2 linked regions of the Homo sapiens genome follow. The protein of the gene in region 1 purifies or fractionates together with the protein of each later gene. This does not show direct contact. Each region holds a gene or a part of one and is shown on either strand. Other genes may lie near its edges.

Evidence for each region. The genes of interacting proteins can lie anywhere in the genome.
Region 2: the proteins of MARK1 (region 1) and AGO3 purify together in Homo sapiens (affinity purification with mass spectrometry, with the first as the bait; one large-scale study listed by BioGRID). This does not show direct contact.

The regions. Positions count from the first base shown.
Region 1 is NC_000001.11:220,531,016-220,534,671, forward strand, and holds part of MARK1 (serine/threonine-protein kinase MARK1), read left to right. Parts: intron 1-3,656. UniProt on the Homo sapiens protein: Serine/threonine-protein kinase. Involved in cell polarity and microtubule dynamics regulation. Phosphorylates DCX, MAP2 and MAP4. Phosphorylates the microtubule-associated protein MAPT/TAU.
Region 2 is NC_000001.11:36,003,964-36,007,619, reverse strand, and holds part of AGO3 (protein argonaute-3), read right to left. Parts: intron 3,280-3,656; coding exon 3,145-3,279; intron 3,139-3,144; exon of another isoform or gene 1,762-3,138; intron 1-1,761.

The DNA of each region.
Region 1 (3,656 bases):
ACAGAAGAGATAATAATCCCAAACAAGTAATGTATGGTAGAAGACATTGTGTAAATAGGGCTAAATTGGTTTATAGGTGTTATAGGTGTTTATCAAAGAGGCCACCACTGATGGCTACGAAATCACCATTGGTGACTCTCTTTATTCTCTAGTTGGTAGTAAATGGCATCATCCATTTTTACTTCTCATCGATGAAATAAAGTAACAAGCCTGCTTGTTAGCTAATATATTAATGCCAGTATGGCAGCCAAAATGTATTTTTGTTTATAGTCATTTTCAATTACATGACATATTTTTAAAAATAGTTACAAAACTTTTATATTCATATGACTATTAAAGGGTTCTAAGTCCTTTGGTATATCAAGGACACTAACTAAAAACATTTTATTTTCCTTAGAAATTAAAATCAACAAATACAGTAATTTAAAACACCATCTTGATATTTCGTTGTCGTTTGCAGTTAATATAAACATTTCTTTGGTCATCCATATAACGTATTTGGATTTTGTGTCCTTGGGAATATATAATATCTACCCTTCTCAGTGTCACTAATATATATTCAGGATAAATAAAAATCCCAAAAGAGGAATATTATAGCACTGATCTCTTATATACTACTGCTATATATAGTAGAATGAGAAAGAATTGCTTTTCTCTAAGAACAGTCTATGTGTACTTTTTCAGGAGTATTTTCTTTGATGAAAGATTTGTGTGTGCCTTGTTAATAGGCCTCAACGGGCTAAATACAACAGGACAACCAATGATTAACTTTTAAGGCAATAAACACTTTGTAGTAAAGTAAAAAAAATGTGTTGCAGATAATAGAATCTATGCAAAATGTGTTTGATTTTAGATTATAAACAGTAAGTCCAGAAAAAGAGTAAAAAAGATTTCTCTTTTTTTCTTTTGTTAGATTTTATTTGGATAATTCCACCATGGATATAGATAATATATTATCATTACTCTTACATGTTTTTTAATGAAACAAGAAAAAAAATTTAGTATTTGGGAAAAACTCCGATTATGCTAATTATTAATGGGTCAAAAATGCTCAGCCTAGCTTTCTGTGATGAAATTTTGATCAGTATGAAGAAAACTCTTTTGACTACTTCTTGGAATGTTTTAAAATTGAATTCAGTTAGACTAAAAAGCCTTTAATAAAAAAAGACTCGATGTTGAGTCTTGTGACATACTGAAATTCATGGCGGTGATTATAATGATTACCTATTGTAACTAAGGTTGCCATCAGTAGTTTGTCTTTTGAGAATCATTGTTAATGGCATGAAGAAGCGAGAGGAAAGCATACCTTTGTCACTATCCTTGGATTTTCTGTGCATCCTTCACATGTCACAGTACCTATCACATAGCATCTAATTGCCTGACTTTGTCTCCCTTAGTCTGTGTTGCCAGTGCCCAGCACAGTGACTAGTACAGTATATAAGAAATCAGTGCTGTAACACCCCCTTTGAATTTTTTCATTTATCATCAAAATATATTGGTGACATTGGTGAGGGTAGACATTACGTATTACAACCTGAGAGGCTGAATGAAGCCTTCAGAGAGAAAATTTAGTGACCTACCCAAGGTTAATAATTCTATCCTTCAAGGTGAATAATGAAAATCTGACACCTTCCACTATTACTGTACTCATGCTGTTACTTCGAGAAAGTGTTTTTTTGTTTTCTTTTGTTTTGTTTGTGTCTTAAAGAGTTTAGAAGAGTGGCTCATGCCTCTAATCCCAGCACTTTGTGGGGCCGGGGTGGGAGGATTGCTTGAATCCAGGAATTCGAGACCAGCATGGGCAACATGGAGAAACCCTGTCTCCACTAAAAATACAAAAATAAGCTGGGCATGGTGGTGTGTGCCTGTAGTCATTCACAGCTACTAGAGAGGCTGAGGTGGGAGGGTTGCTTGAGCCGAGGAGATAAAGGCTACAGTGAGCCAAGATCACACCGCTGCACTCCAGCCCGGGTGACAGAGTGTGAACCCTTTTTTTTAAAAAAAAAAATAGATTTTAGAAGAGCATATGAAATGGTATAAGATACTTTATTAGAGGAAGAACAGGGTATGCCGTCCCTATCCCTACTTCTGAACCTTTACTGTTTTCTGTGTGGAGTGCCTTGCACTTGTCCCTTCATATCAAATTTACAAATCCTTTATGGCTTGTCTCATTGTTTTAACAAGACTTCTGAAATGATTGCAGCTAATATTGTTGTTTGTTGTAGCTGAACAGTGGTGGATGTATATAGTACACATCAGTGGTCTCTAAAGTGGGTGTGCAGGGCAATACATTGGAAGAAGAAATGTATTTAATGTTTGTCACTTCACTTCTGACCTACATGCTATTATTACGTCTTTTTTTTTTATAAAAATCCAGTTCATATAGAATTAGACACATGATTTTAAAGTTATTATTATTGTTATTATTTTTCCTCTTCCATCTCATTGTTTCCTTTGGGTGTCATTTTCTCTTTTCCTGATGAATATCTGTGGAAGTTCTTTTGGTGCAGGATTGTTAGTGATGAACTTTTTTAGATCTGAAGACATATTTTGCCCTAATTCTTAAACGATAGCTTTGCTTAGTCTGTAACTCTAGGTTGATAGTTTGATTTCTTTCACCACTCAGAAGGTAGTATTCCATTGTCTATTGATATACATTGTTTCTGTTCAGGAGTCATCTGCTATTTGGTGTGTGATCCTTTCTGTCTGTCTCTATCTTGTGTGGATTCATATGTCTCATCAGTTATGGGAATGTACCAACCATTATGTCTTTGAATGTTACCTTACCTCTGTTCTGCATAGTATTTCTGGCACTCTGGTTAGATGTGCGAAAATTTATCATTCTATCCTTCATGTTTAACCTGTCATTTATTTTTTTCCTCCTATTTCACTGTTTATCTGTACTCCAATCTGTAGTATAACCTATACTATAGTTACCATATATGTTTAGATCTTTCTTCAGCTGTATATAACCCTGTTAACCTATCTGTTGAATTTTTTTTCATTGTGGTAAAAAGCACACATCAGATACACCCTTTTAACAAATTTTTAAGTGTGCAGTACAGTATTTTTGGTGGGGAGGGAGTAGATTTTAGTGGTGGTAAGGTGGCAATTTTATTTTTTTATTTTTTCACGTCTTATTTTTTATTTAATTTTATGATATGTATTAGATCTATTAGTGCATATTTTGGGGGTATATGTGTTAATTTGATACATTCATATAATCAAATTAAGGCAATTGGGATATCTATCACTTTACATATTGATCTTTTCATTATACTAGCAACATTAAAATTATTCTAGCTATTTTGAAATGTACAATTGATTAGTTAACTATAGTCACCTCAGTGATCTATTGAACACGAGGTCTTTTTCCTTCTAAGTGTATGTTTATACTCATTAATCAATCTCTCTTCATCCTCCCCTTCCTACTAACCCTTTCTAGCCTTTGTTAACCACCAATCTACTCTCTATCTTCATGAGATCGCTTTTTTAACTCCCACATATGAGTGAGAACATATTTGTCTCTCTGTACTTGGCTTATTTCACTTAACATAATGACCTCCAATTTCATCCATAGGCACAATATTGTACAGCACATCTCTAGAAATTTTTCATCTTGTGTGACTGAAACAGTGTACATATTGAACAGCAAC
Region 2 (3,656 bases), about 180 Mb from region 1:
GGTTAATGTGATTCTCCTGCCTCAGCCTCCCAAGTAGCTGGGATTACAGTACCCGCCACTATGCCCAGTTAATTTTTATATTTTTAGTAGAGATGGGGTTTCGCCATGTTGGCCAGGCTGGTCTTGAACTCCAGACCTCAGGTGAACCACCCACCTTGGCCTCCCAAAGTGTTGAGATTACAGGCGTGAGCCACCACGCCCGGCCTTTATTTTAATTAATTTAAATTTAAGTAGCTACATGTGGTTAGTGCAGTCTTAGCCTAGAGAAGAGTTAACAGGTACACAGAGGTCACAGATAAGCAACTCCTTTCTAAAGTTTGGCCTAGACTCCAAGGGATAAAGTCCAAAATGGGGTAGATGGAGAACAACTTTTAGTTCCCTGATAATACTTATGGTTATTACTCTTTGTCATATTTCTCTTTCATATTTGTGATTCCTATACTGCAGTGGTTCTTAGCCAGAGGGCAATCTGTCCCCCAGGGGACATTTGGCAATGTCTGGAGACAAACTGATAGGCATGACTAGAGATGCTACTGCTTTCTATTGAGTAGAGGCCAGGGATAGTATGAAATATCCTGTAATGCAGAGAACAGCCCTACCCCTATCCCAACAAAGAATTATCCAGCCCAAAATGTCAATGCTGCTAAGGTTGAGAATGCCTGCTATGGTAAAATTTATTTTCTTACCTAACTGCTACCTGCAATTAGGTAAGAAAATTAGTACCAAACACAAAGCTCAATCATATAAATGATATTTTCTTCTGATAGATCAGAACAAATTAAGATGTTAAATGGACACGGTATCCATCCCTGTACCAGATTGGTATGGGTTTGTTTTTCTTTGGAAGTGCTCCTCCTTGAATCAGTGAGTAGTAATTTTTCATTACAACTACCTTTATAAGACAAAAATGTCAGATCAACTAGAGAATTACTATGTCTTTATATTATAAAGGAGACTAGAAAATAAAATACTATCGAAGGAGGATCTTAAAAGAAGGAAATACTAATAATATGAAGAAACAAGACGTAAAAATATTATGTTCAGGGGAGAACACAATAGAAAAGTCTAAAACAAATTTCTGTTATTTGCACCACTTAGCAATTTATTTTCAACTCTTCCCCTTGAATTAAAAAAATATTAATAAGGTTCTCCAAGCCTATAAAGCTTTTACTAAAAATAAGTTGGCACATATATAGATATATATATATGGTACTTATACATTTTCCCAGTATTTCTGCTGTTTAACTATCACGAGTTACTGGATAAAGAAACCACTCCAAAGTTATTATTAAATATTTAGGTACAAGTTCAACTGGAAAAAGATGAATATACTAAGAAAATCTATTCTTTATTGCACACTTTGTGTCATTATTTAACAGCTAGCATCAAATTCTTCATACCAGCTAAAAAACCCATAGATACAGGAGAGAACACAAAACTCTTATTCTCTTGGGTTACTGTAGTAGGAATACATGATGTACTTTAAAGAGCCTTCTTTAAAAAAAAAAAAAGCCCTATTTTACTTGGAATGAAGAAAAAAATAATCAGTTTGTCAATTGGATCCCACCCAGATTTTTCCACCCCCAAACTAGGATCATAAATACCTAAGAATTAGACCAAAATCTAGGTGCTAGCAAAAAGTTGAAATTTTTAAAAAGTGGACTAGATAATTCTCTGCCCAGGTCCCTCCCCAAACCCTCCATCCAACCAAAAAAACACTTTTGGCTTTAATAAATATTTAACCTATAAACTTGGCTTTACCTTCACTATAACATCAACTTTATTATGCTTTCTAGTCATTTTTTCAGTCATTTCTTTGGGCCCCTGAGCAGTTGAAGTTAAGATCGAGTCCATGCTCTTCGGGCAGCAGTTGAATCCTTGTTCTGTACATCTTGTATTTTCTGTGATAGAGTGGTGATATGAGTTGATTGCATAGTTACCGCAAAATAATGTAAGTGACTTCATGATATCAGAGGTGGTAACTAAGCAGCAACTCCACTGGAAACCATGGCATTTAGATGATCACATATTAATGGTAGGTAATGCACTAACCTCCTGACAATGCTAGCTGTGCAGTTAATACAGATCATGAAAGGACAATGGTATGGTTGCAAAACAGTTACATAAACAGTTTCTTACTTTGGCATTTAAATAACTTGAGATAAATGGATGCTTATTTTCAAAGCAGGGTGGATCTTCCTTTTAATATTTTATTACAATGACTATCTCTCTCTTGGTTACTGAATGGCGAAGAATGAATTATTACTGGAGCAAGCAGAATGTATTAAACTACTCTAATTGATTTGGGGGAACTGAAAGATGTTCAGTGAACAAACTTAAATGCTTCATTCAAACCACAAGCTGAAAATTATCTGCAATAAATAGGTAAAATCTTAAAAACAACATAATTATTTCTGGCTATTTAAGATCTAACAATATAAATAGAACTTATCCTATTCATTCTGATTAGGGAGTATCAGACTAAATACATATAAAATACAGATTTCAGAACACTATTAAAATTATTTTTATTTTTATTTTTGGGCAGCCACATAGAGATGAATTTATCTGAGTTAAATGTACATATGATGCAACAGCACTGTACAAATTTTAGTTACTAAGTATAATAGATAAGATCAACAGTCAACTCTATAACTTATATTAAATAACTATAATTCTAGAACAACACATGAAACAGGCTAGCCCCACATTTATACGTTTTTAAAGGACTAAAATAAATAACTATCATTTCAGAAAAATAAGGAAGTCATTATATTAGAATATGTTCTAGTTCTATAATTCTAGTTATAAAATATAACAAATATTTTTGGAGTGAGCTTCCTACTTTTAACAGTATTACTAAAGCATTTTCCCATGAGACATTCTTATCCCTTCAGCTAGTAAGGGAAAGTATTAACAAAAAATTAGCTGGTAGTGATACTAACTCCATTACTTGGCATTTCTTTCAAATACCACCTAAGATGTTATAGTAATGAATTTAATGTAATATTTTATTTTATAATTGATGTATAGTTTTACTGGTTATGTTACATAGATTTTAATTATATAAGAAAACATTTTAATAAAAGGTTGTTATATCCATGCATTTTATAGTTAAGTTGTGCTAAATGCTAATTAATTCACCTTTTATCTCTTTGGTGAATTTTACCCGATGAGAATCAGTCAGAGGTCTTGGTTGCTCATCAATATTATGAATATCAAGAACTTCACACATGAACTGAATTACAGGTTGTGCTTTGTAGAAGGCAGTGGCAGAAACTAAGAAGAAAAACACAAACAATACAAATTAATGTTTCCCTAAAAAATTCAGAAACTTCATCTTAGGCTCCAGGATAACTATCTATAGGGTTAAAATGATCCTTTATGCACATTTATGTACATACAAATTTCCAAAATTAAGCAGTTTTAATTTGACCTCTGAGGCACAAATACAAAATGGCCAAATACTACAGTTTTTATAATCTATCTCTTTCATCGTAAGTAACTGATTCATTCCATTCTCTATAGAGAAGTGTTCTGGGTGAGACAAGGCTTGAAAGAGACAAAGAAGGCTGGAGCCCCGTGGCAGATGAGATGGTTAGGTATTATTTCTTTTTTTCTTTTTTTAATAGAAACAAGGTCTCACTATATTGCTC